2 separate regions of the Homo sapiens genome follow, and region 1 is linked to region 2. A link means that fine-mapping ties the variant in region 2 to the expression of a gene that starts in the linked region. Tissue or cell type: CD8 T cells. Region 2 holds a variant in brackets; the other region holds the start of a gene. All regions are shown on one strand. Distances are from middle to middle.

What was found. PIP is the estimated chance that this variant, and not a neighbour inherited with it, causes the effect.
Region 1: INTS6 starts here. The variant in region 2 is fine-mapped to the expression of INTS6 in CD8 T cells (CEDAR, PIP 0.95).

Annotation. Positions count from the first base shown.
Region 1 is chr13:51,449,454-51,457,191 of GRCh38, forward strand. It overlaps INTS6 (integrator complex subunit 6), which reads right to left and starts at 3,583. Exons shown (of 18, transcript NM_012141.3): 1 at 2,962-3,583; 2 at 2,525-2,602; 3 at 1,572-1,721. The coding sequence starts at 3,072. It overlaps INTS6-AS1 (INTS6 antisense RNA 1), which reads left to right and starts at 3,892. Exons shown (of 2, transcript NR_103812.1): 1 at 3,892-3,965; 2 at 4,550-5,263. RefSeq lists silencers at 2,119-2,168, 2,229-2,388, 2,459-2,598, 2,609-2,728, 2,739-3,008 and 3 more and an enhancer at 3,569-3,618.
Region 2 is chr13:51,361,961-51,369,698 of GRCh38, forward strand. It overlaps SERPINE3 (serpin family E member 3), which reads left to right. Exons shown (of 10, transcript NM_001386375.1): 10 at 2,279-2,775. The coding sequence ends at 2,322. It overlaps INTS6 (integrator complex subunit 6), which reads right to left. Exons shown (of 18, transcript NM_012141.3): 16 at 6,979-7,350; 17 at 5,845-5,938; 18 at 1-3,885. The coding sequence ends at 3,792. Among named protein-coding and RNA genes, the nearest start is that of MIR5693, 17 kb to the left of the region's middle. The variant C/CT (reference allele first, on the strand shown) is at 3,431.

The sequences.
Region 1 (7,738 bases), 87 kb after region 2:
ATGACAAGCAGTTTTTCGAAGGAAGCAATCTTTAAGAAGTATTTTTAATAGGTAATAGGAGGTGAATATGTCCAAATGCCTTGACCACTTATGAAATGTGATGCAGAAAAAGAGGAAACTAATAGTTCTGCCATACACTAACAACATGACAACCAAATAAAGGTAACCAAATAATGGCAAGTTTTAAATATCTCTTTGAACTCAAAGAGGTAAGGATGAAAACCTTAAGCAGTAAGACTGTGTTGCACTACATATCACAAAGGAATATAAAAGAGAAGGAAATCCACTACTATTTTACAGAAACAAACCAAAAAGTTCATTGCAAATCTACCTAAATTATTAAAAGTTGCAAAATAAAAGCAGCAGAGATGGGAAAAACATAAAAGTATTAATGTGGTAAGAAAGTACATATTTACCTAACTAAACGTTGGAAGTTCAATTTGGTAAGCTCACTCTGAATTTCAGTGTACATTTTAAATGTTATAGAACTAAATTCAGTTATTTCCAAAGACACTTAAGCACTGAAGTTATCCCTAAGAAGCTTAAAATTTCCTAAAACAGAAACAAGTCAATTTCCTTCAATAGGAAGCAAATAAAAGTTGTAGTCACAGAAAGAATTTCCCTGAAATGTACGAAACTCACAAAACTAGGGACTGTGGGACTTGGGAAAATACAACATATACCCAATATATAATTAGGAATAGTGCTTTTCACTACAACATAAGAACTGAGCTCCTTGGAAATAATATTCCTTTGTTACATGTAACATTATACATTGTTCAGTATCTTTTATTTCCAGGGCAATAATATCATAAAATGTTACAATAGACCACCTTGCATTATTCCTTAGTGAATTATTGTTGATTTAAAGCTCCTCTCATCCTCAAATACATGAAAGTAAGTGCAATAAAAGGACTTGTGGGGGTTAAGAAACGAAGGGTTCTTTCATATTTTCCAGCAGTCTTTTTTTCCAAGGGTTTGGAGTTTAAATCAAAACTCTGGGCCTGAAATTTAATTCAGAGTTCTTCCTGCAATAGTTGTTAACTGTGTATGCTTCAAAAGAAAACTTAAATGTTCTCAGCCAGTGACTGTACTCCAGTGAAAAACTTCTTACCTTTCAGAATAGTTATACAACATGGTCACATTAAACCCTGATGCAACAAACAGATTAATTTCCTCTAACATCTTTACTAATATAGAAACGAAGAACACGAACTAGTGTCTCTAAGCCACTATAATAGTTGCACATACAACATGAGTGTGGTGTGGTAGGATGCTTTTCCTTTTAGGTCTTTACTGAACTTTCAAGGGATTAAAACCAATGTATGTCAACTTTATAGCAAAAGTTTCAGATTCTAATCCTGAATACCAATGCATTTTAGAGGGGGAAAAAATGAGGGATGTAAAATATATATAGTAGGGTAAGAGTTTTGCCTTTGAACAATGTGCATATTCTATTTTAATTTGGAATGTTTTATACTTGCATTTCATGTTATGTAGTTTTTGGACTGGACTGTGTTTTTCCACAAAATGAAAAATCAACTATTTTGCCACCTTATTATTCAACCTACCTGCCCATAGTTGTCTATGCCAGTTACTAATCTATTTAAATTTAATAAATCAAAAGCTGTCCTTAGGGATTGGCCAAGAGTCGTAAGTCCTTCAGCCTGAAGGTTTTTCAATTCATTCATAAACGTTGCATGGTTTTCTTTCCATCCAGCCTGAAAAGAAAAATGTAAGATTTTTTTTTTTCATTTTTTAAAGCCATGTACACAGAGCCGTTATAATCTGACGTTCACCAAGTAGCAGCTTCACTTTTGGTTGGTTTGGCTTGGTTAACGTGTTAATACTGTACCGCTGCTGAGGAAACTCTCTTCCAAAGGTGGCCCAGGAATAACCCAGCTTCCTCTCTAGGTTTTGGTAGTTAACTGCCTTAATACTTTATAACTTCACTGACAAATTTACTACCTAATCTAATACCCAAAATTTGGGTATGTGAAGGTACTAGTGGAAGCAGATGGGAGCCGGACTTAGGAAGTTAACCTGCAGCTGTCCCACCGGCCCTCTTAGGACGAATCTGACAAGACCAATCCTGGCAGCCCCGCATCTGGCTTCCGGGCCGGCCGGGCCGATTCCCCTTTAATGCAAACCGGGGCTGTGCGCGGCCGGGCCCGGCTGTCACTCCGGCTAACTTGAATAAATATCCCCCACAGTTCATTGCTGCCGCTCACGCCGCGGAGGGGAAATGTCGGCCATGTTGATAGCAGCGCCGCCGCCGCCGCCGCCGCCGCCGCTGCCGGGCCGGGCCGGGAGGGGACGGCGGTGGCCCCGCGACTCCGCGCCGCGCTAGGACGCTGCCGAGCGGGGGAGGGGGTGGGAGCCCGCAGGGAAGAGACCTCAGCGGCTGGGAGCGCAGCGGGTGGGGGAGGGGAGCATAATGAAGGGTGAATGGGGGGGCGGGGAGGGCGAGCGAGGAAGGAACAGGGAAGGGAAGGGAGGAAAGGGGGAGGGCGAGGGCTGTTACCTTGATAGCATAGGGCGGCTCTTCGAAAGTGACCAGCATATACCTGTCTCCTCTGCTGGCAGGGTCCCGGGCACGGAGCTGCGGGACGGGAGGAGGAACAGGGCGGGCGACAGGGAAGCACAGAGGCGAGGTTACGAGGCGGAGAAGGGGCGCCCAGCGGCCCCGCCGCCCCCACAGTACCGCACACGCAGCGGCCACCCCTCCACGCCGTCCCCCACACACAGATCGCTCCCCACACACCGCCCGGGGCCGGAGCCCGGGCCCCGGCCGAACCCGGCTCGCAGCGCCCGCCCGCCCGCGCGGTGGGGGAGGGGGTCCCCGAGCCCGGCAGCTCCCGCAGTCAGGTCCCCGACACCCCCGCCCCGGCCGCCCTCCCCCACCCTGCCGCCCGCGGGCCGCCGGGCCGGGGTCGCCGCCCGGGCTCGGTCAGTCGGTACCTTCATGAAGGTCTCTACCGCGCCTTTGGCCGTGTCCAGGTAGGTGGTGCCCAGATGGCTGCGCTGGTTCATAGAGGCAGACGTGTCTATCAGGAACAGTAAGATGGGCATAGTGCTGGCCGGGGACACCGGGGCCCGAGGTGGTGGAGAAAGAGGAGATGGTAGAGGTGGAGGCGCCGGTGGCGGCGACCGCCGCTACGCGGGGCGGGGGAGCACGGCCCCCGGGAGGAAAACACTGTCTGGGTCTTTCCTCCGGCTGCGGGGAGTTTCTCCCCCGATAGTTGAGAGGAAACTCCCCAGACCCAGTGCTCCCCGTCGTACCCCCGCCTCCGCCTCCTCCTGCCTGCCTGCCCGCTGGGGCGGGCGCCCAGCCGTCTGTCTGTCGGTTCGTCCCCCCCGCCTCGGGGGTCCCGTCCCCGCTCCCGGCCCCTGTGTGTGTCCCAGCGGGAGACGGGCCTGGCTCCCCACCCCACCCCCGGTACAGGAGTGGGGACCTGGGAGCTGGCGAAGAGGGGAGTGGGCTGAGGGAAGATTGGCCCTGGGGCTGTTGGGAGAAGTTTCAGGGACTCCCTCCGCACCCCGGCGGTGTCACCACTTTCTCAGCCCCTCTCGCTACTGAAGCGCTTTTCTCTCTCACACTCCGGTTTTAACTCGGGCAGGGGCTGCGGAGGCTCCGCCCCTGACACGTCCCCGAGCCACGTGATACACCGCCTCGCCGTTCTACTGGTCAGGCCCTATCCTTTCATTAGCATATTTAAACAGCTCAGGGGCGGGGGAAGCTTGTAGGCCGGCTCCGGGGACAGTTATTGAGCACGCGCAGAGGCGGGGCGTCGGGTGCGCGCGAGCGGGCGGGCGGGCCGACCCGGAGGCGGGCTTCGGGAAGGGGCGGGGCCGGACTGCGGAAGGACCGCGAGGTGGGGGCGGGGGCCGCGTCCGCGCGCGCGGGGCGGCCGCGGCGGTGAGCCTGCGCGTCAGGGCCGCCGGCCTCTCCTTGGCTGTTGGAGGTGATAGGGGTCGAGGGGAGGGAAAAAGGGGCTGGCGTCAGCCGCCCCTGTGAGGTGGCCGTAGCGTGGACGAGTAAGAAGGGTTGAGTAAAGTGGACAAACACCTGGTTAGGAGAAGAGGGCAGGCCCGCAGCCGCCCTCCGGAGGAGGACTCGGGGCCTCGCGGGCGCCGGAGGAGGTTCCTGGGCCTCGGAGGGCCGCCCCGGCGCGCCGCCCCGGCGCGAGCGGGCGCGGGCGGGGGAGGGGAAGTGAGAGGTTGTTTATGACCGGGGACTAATCTCCTCCGCGAGTCCCAGCGCTCCCTCTGGGGAGTGCGGTTGAGGGGCTGTCCTCGCACGGAGCCTCGCTCGGCCTCGGGGGAGCCACGAGAGGTGGGAGTTGGACCCGCAGCGGGCCAGGAGCCCTGTCATTGGAGGACCCGCCAAAAAGGAAGCAAACCCTCTTTTTCTTTATCCAACCCCAAATAGCTAGGGCCTAGGGGGAAGACTCACATATCGATAAATGGTTTGTTGCCCGTTTTATTCTCTGGGAAATACAACTGATCTTACCAAAGAAATAACCTGTCTCTTGCCGTGTTTACTTAGAGCCATAGAATACCTGTTTCAGAGCTGAAGGGGACCTGAGCCCATGATAATCCATTACCTCGTGAGAAAGCGGAAAAACTGACTTCAGCTTGCCCAGATGGCGCAGAGAATGGGTTTCCCGTAACCCCGCCTGTGTCTTTCCTTCAGCCTCGTCCCAAATGCCGTGGGAGGGAAGGCACTCTCTGTCAAGCTGCTGTCACCTTACCTGAAGTAAGGAGTCCACGCCTGCATGTCCGAGGAAAACAGTTTTCTCAAACACATTAGTTGAAAAACTGAAGACGCTGCCTAAAATACAAGCTGAGTTAGAGACAGCCCTTGTAAGACTAGGTAGGTATTTACAGGGCCTCTCCCACTAGCTTTGTTTTTCCAGAGTTTGTTCTTTATCCGGAAATTCTTAATTTGCCTACTGATCATTTAAAGAAAGGGTTCTATTAACATTGACACAGAAGAGACACTTTGTGGCACTTTTTAAAAATCTGAGTCTCGTGACTTGGTATAACTTCTGAAACTTACTGTTAATTTATAGCAGAGCTATTTGAGTAATATGCTCTTCTATGAGTATGAACAATAGAAGAAGTGTGATTTTTAAAGTGATTTGGACTACAAAATAAGAGCATGGAATATAGGCTTTACAGCCAGTACTTGCTGAGGATGTACTGTGTATTAGGTGTGGTGCATATAAAAAATAAATAAAATGTGGTCCCTGTCTTCAAAGAGCTTATGTTTTCTAGGAAAATGCTACATATTACTAGCTACTCCAAGGCAGAAAGTTGTTAGACACCAAATCAGAAAAAATAAAAATGTATTACCTTGGGGTGATGCAGGAACATTTTCCAAGGTTTCAGCTTTGCCTTAGTGTTTCTTAAACGGATCATAGATCTGAAGATAAGAATCAGAGTTCTATGGCAAAATACGAGTTATTTTACCAGTTATAAAGATGAAATTTGTCTTTCAACTTGATCATTTGCATAATTTTATACAATTGCTCTTTAGTTCTTTATATTTGTGCTTTTCAAACTGGTCTGTGGACCCCAGCCTACTGAAAACATTCTCTAGGATCATAAGAATTTATTTTAGGAGTCTGTTCATTATTCAGTTTTAAGAAACACTGTCTTAAAGGACTGGTAGGATTTGGATATGGGTAAAGGAAGGGGAAGCTGCTAGTGAAAAGATCTTCCCGACATTGAAAATGTGAAGAAAGGAAGTTAAGACAGCATTGCTGAGGGCTTCCTGAGGAACAGTGAAGTTCAGCTAGGTTGGAGCAACAGGTGCATGTAGAATAGTACAAGATCTAGAAACACAGGTGAGATCTAGACAGTAGAGGGCCTTTATTCCAATCTATGGAGGTTTTTTTTCCCCTATAAATTGGAGATTTATTTTTCAATTGCGTTGCTAAGTAGAAGCAATGTTTGAAAGAAATCAAACTAGACTACTGAAGATTAACATGCGTTCACAATGACCTTACCTATTATTACAGTTATTCGAAATCATTTTTCAGTGGAGCCATTGTCACAGGATCCTTGGAGTGTCACTTTTCCAGCTGGAAAAATGGCACCTCTGCCCGAATTTTGGTCGGGCTCATTCTGCCCACCAGTCCCAGCAGGCTGCACTCTGCTCATACTACGGCCTGGATCCCACACCTGCCAAGTGCAAGCCAGGTGCGGAGCAGCGAGGGGTGTGTGAGCGAGCAAGCATGGGGTCCGGCCACTGTATACAGCCCGGCATGCCAGCTGCAGGAGGGCGGGCAGCTCTAGGGGCTGGCCCCTTGCAAGGCTGTGGCTGGTCCAGGTGTACTGCAAGCAGCTTCCACAGCTGGCACCAGGGAATGCAGTGGCACCTGGAAGCTTGGAGATGCCAGGAGCTGCAGAGCCCCAAAGAGGTTGTCACAGGGAGCTCCTAGGTCTAGGCTTCCTAAAGGGCCACAGCTCTTCTCTCCTCTCTTCCCCCTTCTCTTTCCTTTCTTCTTCTCTTCTTCTCTCTTCTCTTGTTGTGTTGCCCACAACATGGCAAGCAAGGGGCATATTTCAGCCCGTTTGTGTTACAGCTCTTTCAGCCATGCCATTTGGCAGGTCCCGAGTTATTGTCCCACATCCAGGAAGAATGAGGTATGTGGACAAGTGGAGGGTGAGCAAGGCAAAGAGGTGCTTTGTTGAGTGACAGAACAGCTCAGAGGAGACCTGAGGGCAATGAGTAGCTTCTTTCTGCAGGCAGGTCATCCCAATAAGTGTCCAGCTCTCAGCAGAGAGGAGACCCACAATGGGTAGTTCCTCTCAGCAGGCAGGTGGTCCTGTCATCTGCTCAGCTCTCCACAGAGGAGACCCACAGTGTCCATAGACCCACAGTGGGTAGCTCCTGTCTGCAAGCAGGTCATCTCATTGTCTGCCCAAGTCTGGTTCACTCCAGGGTTTTTATGGGCTTCTGAGAGGAAGAAGTGTGTGCTGATTGGTCCATGGCGCAGCCATGGGCAGGCCTGGAGAAAGCACCATAAGTTCTCACTCCGTTGCATGGAACTGGCAGCCTGACCCCTGGCGTTACCGGGGACCCACCCCTTTCCGCCCAGGAGCCTGTGTGGATCCTGCTGCCATTAACCTGCCATCCACAGTGCCCATGGCGCCCAGGTTGTTCATGCTAAGTGGTACCTACAGGCCTTCACTGAGATGTCCTTATTCCCGCCTCGGCCTGCCTCCCTCCTGTGCTCATCAGCACCCAAAGTCCAGAGGGGACTGAGGCAGCATGGGGCTTGCGTGTCAATGCTGCCCCAAGCACGTGCACACCTGGTCGGGTCGTGACAGCACCCAGGCTTAGTCACAACTTTGCTCTGAAATCAGAGCGGGTGCTGGGAGCGGGGAGAGGCCAGGCAGTGGGAGCAGGCACTTCCAAGCCTGCGGGAGCAGGGAGCTTCCTGGTCCCCTGAGAGTGGGTCTTCTCTCTGTGGAGAGCTGAGAAGATGACGGGATGACTTGCCTGCTGAGAGGAACTACCCACTGTGGGTCTCCTCTCTGCTAAGAGCTGGACACTTATTGGGATGACTTGCCTGCAGAAAGAAGCTACCCATTGCCCTCAGGTCTCCTCTGAGCTGTTCTGTCGCTCAGCAAAGCACCTCTTTGCCTTGCTTACCCTCCACTTGTCCGGAGATGAATGGGTCCACAACCATGACTGGGTGGCTGCAGCTGCACTCAGGAGGGCAGG
Region 2 (7,738 bases):
TGTCCACTATCCCCTCAAAAATAAGCATTCTTTCTAGCTGTTTTTATGGTGCTTCAGAAGCTACCCAGTTGCTATCTTCTATCCTAAGAAAGGGGACTATTTCGTAAGTACAAAGGAAACTTATCCTCCATGTTTTTTACCTTCTCATTCTCTCAGCTCATATATAGTTAATGTAGATTTTTTTTTTTAATGCTATAGGTTTCTACTTCTGAAGACACTTGGAAAAATCATGAAAGTAAAATAAATTATAAATCTTGCCCTTTTTTCCCTTTGTCCCCTAGCTTTCTTATCATTTTAGAGTTTTTTCAGGTCACTAGAGTACACCAGAGTAGTCCTCTTGTGATCCTAGTATTCTAATGAATGCACCTGGATTTCTATACTGTTCTGTTGATCTTTCTCAAAAATCAAATGTTTGCCCTAGTACTTTTAAGTCCTACTACATAACCTTATGGTAATCCAAAGATGGTGTGGTACCGGCAAAGCCTCAGTACATCAGAAGGACACACAAATATTCTTAGGCTTCGACAATATTGAACAAAGTCTTTAGATTATTTCTCTTAATGTTCTTCCTCCCCCACTCACAATTACTTAGCCTAGGAAGGAAAAGAGATTCTCAGTTAAGAGTTGTTGGCAAGTCTAAACAGTGTATTAAAAAGAAATAGGATAGAACAAGACTAATAAAATCAAGCAAAGGTGGATCTACTTTAACTAAACATCAGGCATTACTTTTATTTATGGAGAAAAATGTCAAAAGTTAGAATGAAAATTATGCATAGTTTTACATAAATTGTTAAGGAAATACTGTCAACATCATTTTATCTGAGAATCATTTGCATCCTGCTGTACCTTGTGCTAGAAATCAAAGGAACATTTTTGTGACGAGAAAGATATAAACCATTCACTAGAAAATAATCTATTTGGGATTATTTGGAGAGAAAAAGTCCATCAACAGAGTATGTCTTCCTAGTATTTCACCATGATCATCCCAACCACATAACGATTAGATGAAAATATCACTTATCACCCAGAACAGGCGGCAGAGAGCCTTCTCTTAGAAAGGACACGTCAAAAAAATGAAAGATGAGAAAAAGGACAGGTTCTACTCCCTAAGGAAACAAAGAGACAGGACTACATTTGAACAGAAAGGTCATTGCCAAAAGCCAATAGCCAATAAAGGTTGATAGGTAAAAGAGAGATTCTGATTTTGGAATTCAAGTGCATAAAAATGATGTAAAATCCTTAAACAAGGAAAAGACACACCACTATTTCAATGGTAGGAGTTTTCAGAACTGCCTCAGTAATCAGAATGAAAATATAAGGATAATCCAAAACCAGTTCCACAATCCACTGGAATTCTAATAGTCCTTGTGACTTTACCTCTATCTGGGAGGCATTAGCCTACATCACACAACACAGTGGCTGCTCTTCTGGTGATGGTTATGGAAGAGTTTAGAAATGAGTCTCAGCCTTCATTATTTCCAACTGACAAATCTTACTAAGAGCAACTAATGAATCAATCAGCAAATGAGAAACATGGGAGACATTAAAAAAAAAGATTTGAAAACCTCAAGATTAAACTTTCCAAGAATATCATTTGTCGAGCCTTAAGTCATTCAGTGACATAAAGGGCCTAAAAGACATGATGTTTCCCCTAGATGTATTTCCCTTCCCCTTTGACAATAATTCTACAACAAGTATTCTAATTTAACTAATATACCCATTTTTTTTTTAAATGAAAAAAGCCTGAGGGAGATGAGATATTAACCTTTAGTTCTGATAGGTTTCAAACCCTCCTGACCAGGTTTTAGGATGAGGTGAGAACAGTGGCAGAGAGATAAAGGACAAAAAGAAGAGATGAACAAAACTGCTACTTCTCACCTCCCTCCAGGGTTCATTCAGAAAAATGTATTAAAGGTCATGAGCAATCTGTGAAACAGAAAATAAAACTTTCTGATAAGGAAAGCTGCTCAATATTGGGATGGGCTGAATCTCTTTCCTAGATACTCTTGTTAAGTATGAATTTTTATCTGAATGACTTCTAATTCCTCCTAGTAATTCCAGAATCTAAATATATATAATTTAGGAACAGACAATATATTCTGGATTTTGTGTAACTCTCAATGAATTTAGCAATGTGACTACAGGCAATTACCTTAACAATTCCATCTATTAAATGTTATCTTGCATTACTTAAAAGTATTTGTATAGAAGTAAACAAAGCTTAAAGAACTGCATATGAAAATACTATATAATATTAAATTCTTCTTTTTCTTGACAGGGTTTGTCTTCAGTATTGGGAGAGTTTCAAATCCCCTAGACTAAATGCATGTTCTCCACTTTCATCAATGCTTTTCTTCATAAAGTTATAATTTCATTTTGCTATACCCTTGAAATTTAAAAAAATGTCTGATAAAGTGTAAAAAGCTAAGGGTATGTGATTTTCAATATTATAAACCTAAAAATACTTCAGTTTTTAAATGTTATAAGTTTATTTTGCCTACTCTTAATCCAAATCTATTTTGACCTTCTTTTCTACTGCTTACCCCCCAAACCACTAAAAGGCACAGCAGTGATCATGAATGGTGAGTGAGTCAGGCCATAAGATTGCTTCCTCAGTACGGATACTCTAGGCCATGTTGAATTGAGGGTGGAGAATGAATAGCGTGGTTTTCCTTATCCTGTGAAACTCAGGGGGGATGCAAAATGAGCAAAGTCATCTTAAAGGTGTTTCCTTTCCATTTAGCTTATAAATAAAACAGAGTTTAAGTGTGAGAACAGCAGAGCAGAACAAGGAGGCCTCCAATTTGTTGTGGGCTTTTGCAAGCATGGCATGAAGCTGCTAAAGGCTAGATATTTCAGAGCATGTACTGTACTCCAAACCTACCACTCCCTAACAGCTTCAGCTTCGTGCCATCCACAATCCTAGTGATAAAGGAAAAGGTGTTGAAGTAAGGAAACCAATAATATCCAAAGTTGTTTGCTTTTTAAATAGCTTTTAAAGTATCTGTCTATCTGCCCCATACAAAGTCATTCCCATAATCTAGGCAGAAATGGGAGTATGTTGGCATGGCCAACAAAAACTACGAACATATAGTAAAAAGGCAATGCAGATTATGTAACATGTAATTACAGTTAGGCTTAACAAACATGAACTTCAAGTGGTGTATTTTTCCAATGCTAAAAAGCAAGGCCTTTAAAATTCCATTATCTTAGGATGTTTTTAAATGATTACTTTAAATGTGATTATTTCCTAAACCACACAAGAGTAAAATAGAGCATTTATTGATGGAATAACAAAAGTGCTTTTCTTAAATATTCTTCAAAATACATTTGTACAACTTACAATAATATATCCAAAATAACTGTATATACAAAACATTACCTAGTTTTAATGTATGTGCTTTTTTCCCCAAAAATTACAAAGTAACTT[C/CT]TTTTTTTTTTGGCAAAGTTCAACCTTAACAGAGGTGACAATTTTAAAGGTTGGTTTAAGAAAATAGAACCTGAGGGAAATTGACACGCAAGAGTCAATGACAAGCAAGAGATTTGGAGGAATATTTTTAGTTTGTTAAATTAAAAATGTTTTTTAGAGTGATACTTTTCACATTACAAAAATAAACCAAAATGAAGAAAAGGTCACTGTAAAATGATGGAAAAAGGATCTGTAGATTTGCTTTTAGTATTTCAAATAGCCAACAATGCATGTCAGAAAATGAATGCAAGATCACAACAGTCTTGTATTTACTTTGTATTTGAAGAAGATAGTGAAATAAGTGGCCACATTCTATTTTCTTTTAATTGCTATTAATATGGTTGATCTGATTGGCTCTTCGATGAATTTCATCCAAGAAGTTCTCCAGTTGTTCTATTAGCATTCGTTTTTTAAACCTGTATGAAAAAATAAATAGTACTCTCAATTACTTTTTAATGAATAGTATATATCAGTATAATTTTTTTAAGAAAGGAGAGAAAATTTTGGGAAGATTTTTCAAAGTGAAATGAAAATAGAAAAATCAATACTACGACAATATAAAATATGTTGAAAGATTAGCAAATTATTATCCTAGTACAGTATTATAGTTTGTCCCTAAAACACTCTAGGGCTAAACAATGGGAAAGAGGTTGTTCCTTCCACAACCGAAAAGAAAAAGGAAAAAACAAACAAAAAAACAAAAAACTAATATATTCAAAATATATTCAAGGGCTGCAAACACTCTAGTGAAATTTGGGCTCCCCAAGCAAATACTTCAATAGCTTCTTCTCATGCTCTTTGTAAGCTGAATATTGAAAGGAATGTGAACAAAGTATGAATATAATCTCCCACAAAATGGAAGAAGAAATGAAAATTGGTCAGCAGCATTTAAAAACCATGGTATTCTATTACAATTTGAGAGCTAGCAAATCAAGGATAGACATCTATAATACAGAGTATAGCAAGCAGTTAAAGTTCAAGTAACAACTTTTAAAGATTTTCAGTAACAAATATGGACAGACTAAAATTGCATCTGTATACGTAACTGCTGACGGTTTTAAGAATATCCCAAGACACTGGACATTTTATTCCTACTTCCTTGCTACTTAGAAGCTAATATAAATAGCCACCATAATACTACACAACTCTCTAAAAGGTGGCAGAAGTGAAGTACAGATACCGGGGATATAAATTCCTAATGAGGTTTTAGCTGACAGAATGTTACCATAAAGAGCATAATAGGTTAAATACTCAAAATTACATGAAAAGTTATAGCCTTATCTTGATCCTGCAAACTGGCCTATGCTCTAGCCACTCCAAAAGTACAAAAAGAAAAGAAAACCAGAAACAAAACCAACTTTATCTAAAATCTTCATGTGTAGCATAGAAGAGACAGGGGGACAAAGTATAAGTGTGTTTACATTTAGAAGGTGGGATGTGATAAGCCCCAAGTTTTCTTATAATACTAAAATCCCCAAAATCTTGAAGGGAAAATAAAAAATGTTTTTAAACTCATACAACTATGTTTTCCAGTTAATTGCACTTCTTAATTACCATTTATAACCTTTATCCACCTTCTTTACACAGTGATCCCTCGGTATGGATGGGGGATTTATTCTAGGCCTCCCTATGAACACTAAAATCCACGAATGCTCAAGTCCCTTGTATAAAATGGCCCAATATTTGCATGTAACCTATGTACATTCTCCCATATGCTCTAAATAATCTCTACATTATTTATAATACTAATACAGTGTAAATACGATATGAATTAGACTGAATTATTTAGAAAATGACAAGAAAAAAAAAGCCTGTACATATTCAATACAGATACAACCATCCATTTCCCCGCCTCCAAATACTTTCAATCTGTGGTTGCTTGAATCCAATGAATGTGGAACCCAGGGATACAGAGGGCCAATGTACTAATGATCCTGGGCTACTGAAACAATCAGAATAAGGCCCATTTGTCCAATTCTTGTCTCCTTAATTACGTTTTCCCATGTAAAAATAAATGACACTCAAGTACGTTATTTTTAGTCACCAATATTAATGTATAAAGGAGAAAAATTAAAGGTTATAAAATATTAATGTAAAGATATCAAAAAGCTACAGAGAAGAATAACAAGAATTCTCCAAGTATCCAGTAATTTGTAGGGAGAAAAGGTCCATAATTCCTGAAGAATGTATGTGTGGCTGTTTTCTAAGTGAATTTCTTTCAATAAACTAAAAAAGAATAAGAATTTATTTATATGTTGGTATGCCATATACATTTATAAACAATACAAGTGCAAAACGGATACTATTAAAATACTGCCTATATAAACTGTGGACTCATTTCATCACCATTTCATTATATGCAATAGTTTATTTACCTTGATGCTTCTTTAATGACATTTTGTAAAAATATTAGTCTTGTTTGTAAACTGCCTTGCACATGCTTCAGTAAAGTGAAGATTCTTTCATATTCTTAAAGCAAAAGAAACAAAAAGAAAAATTAAGTGCCTTTCATTTGTATTCTTATTCAATATTCTTCTTTTGCAGTTTATGATATTAAGATATACTGAGATAAAAACATTCTACATAAAAATTTCACCACTCATTAGAGATTTTATATTTTAACATATATGTAAAAGTAAGTACACAGCAACAAAGATAAAACAACTAATCAAACCCTGCTTTGTAAGTAAAAGTTCCTATTAAGGTATCAAACATAAAGCTTAAAAGGATGAGTAAATAGCTTTATGGTAGTATCACTAAAAAATAAGAACAAGTGGCCTTTACAAAACTCCATCCTTACAGTTTAAAATTCTAACAGCTAACATGGGGGTAACTGGGAAGTGGGGGTAAAAACCAGACAGGTTAAGAGTGTTATTTCAGTTTAAAGTTTTCATATGAAACTCTGCAAGGGCTATAAACGTCTGAACTCCAAGGACTGATTTGTTCCCATTTCTGGACCACCCAGGTCATTCTACTACCCCAGGGCAAGTGATCTGTTAACATCCTCTAAATGAATGCCAATAATACTGAACTTTTTCCCACGAAGTTCTTTTGTGTTCATATACCAGAGAGCTTTCATAACTTTAGTTTTTTGGCCTAAACATATCCTATAATATCACAGTTTAACTACTAAACATAGTGGTAGGCACTATGACAAGAACTTTACAGACATGAAGTCATTTAATTTTCACTATATCTCTTGTGAGCTAGCTGCTATATTAAAATTCCATCGTTGGTCAGAATATTCAAGACTATGGGTTCCTGTCAATTTATCTGTACAGTGTTGCTCTGCTCTCAGTCCCTGCTGCCTACCACCATACCTAGTACCTTGGAAATAGAAGATATTTGGTGTTGGTCAGATGAATAAAGGATCTTAACTGAGATGTTGTTCAAGACAGATCTAGAATCATATGTATTCTTTTACTACAGTTACTTGACTTTTTTTTTCTTTTTTGCTTTTTGAGCACATACAGAAATCAGATCTGAGGTTCGTCTCTTATTATACATACTTCTTCCTGGCTTTCGGATCTCTTTCATTATTTGTGCTTTTAGTTCAGTATTGACCTCTTCATGGCTTCTGCAATGCATCAATTTCTTTCCTTTGTTGAGTGAAGATGCTGGTATGTTCTCTTCAGCACATTGTTCTTTATCTCTTGGCTCCTCATGATTTTCTAAAAATCCACCAACAGTGAGGTCATTGGTTCCTAAATGGTCATGACCAAGAGCCTCCATATGATTGGTTGGCCGTTCCAGTAAACTGGCTGGAGAAGATGCTGAAAATTCCGTATCCATAGCATTTGGTGTAATGTCTGATGAAAGTTGGTCTGCAACATGATTTTCAACCACATCATGTATTATCGAATCATTAGTGGTTTCTGAAACTAAAAACAAAGATACGGGGAAAAAATTATGGGATCCAGTCTCAAAGCATACAGTAAATAAAGCTACAAAAGAACATTACTACAGCAAGTCAACTGTTTTCCTTGACTAATGCAAGTTAACAAATAATGTGATATAGTTTTTAAGCATTGCCAAAGATACGGTAGATTTCAATGTGACACATACACAGTATTTACAAAATATTTACAATTTTTACCCTTGGAGGAAAAAATAAAGCCAATTTCAAGTAGTTTTTAGTTTTCTGGTTTATTCTATAGCAATTTTATTGAAACAAGTAGGTTCTTGATACTTCAATGAAATATCTATGATCAAAATTATCACGGTCATCTATCTCTACCTTAGAGAGCCCTAACTCACACATATGCCTTA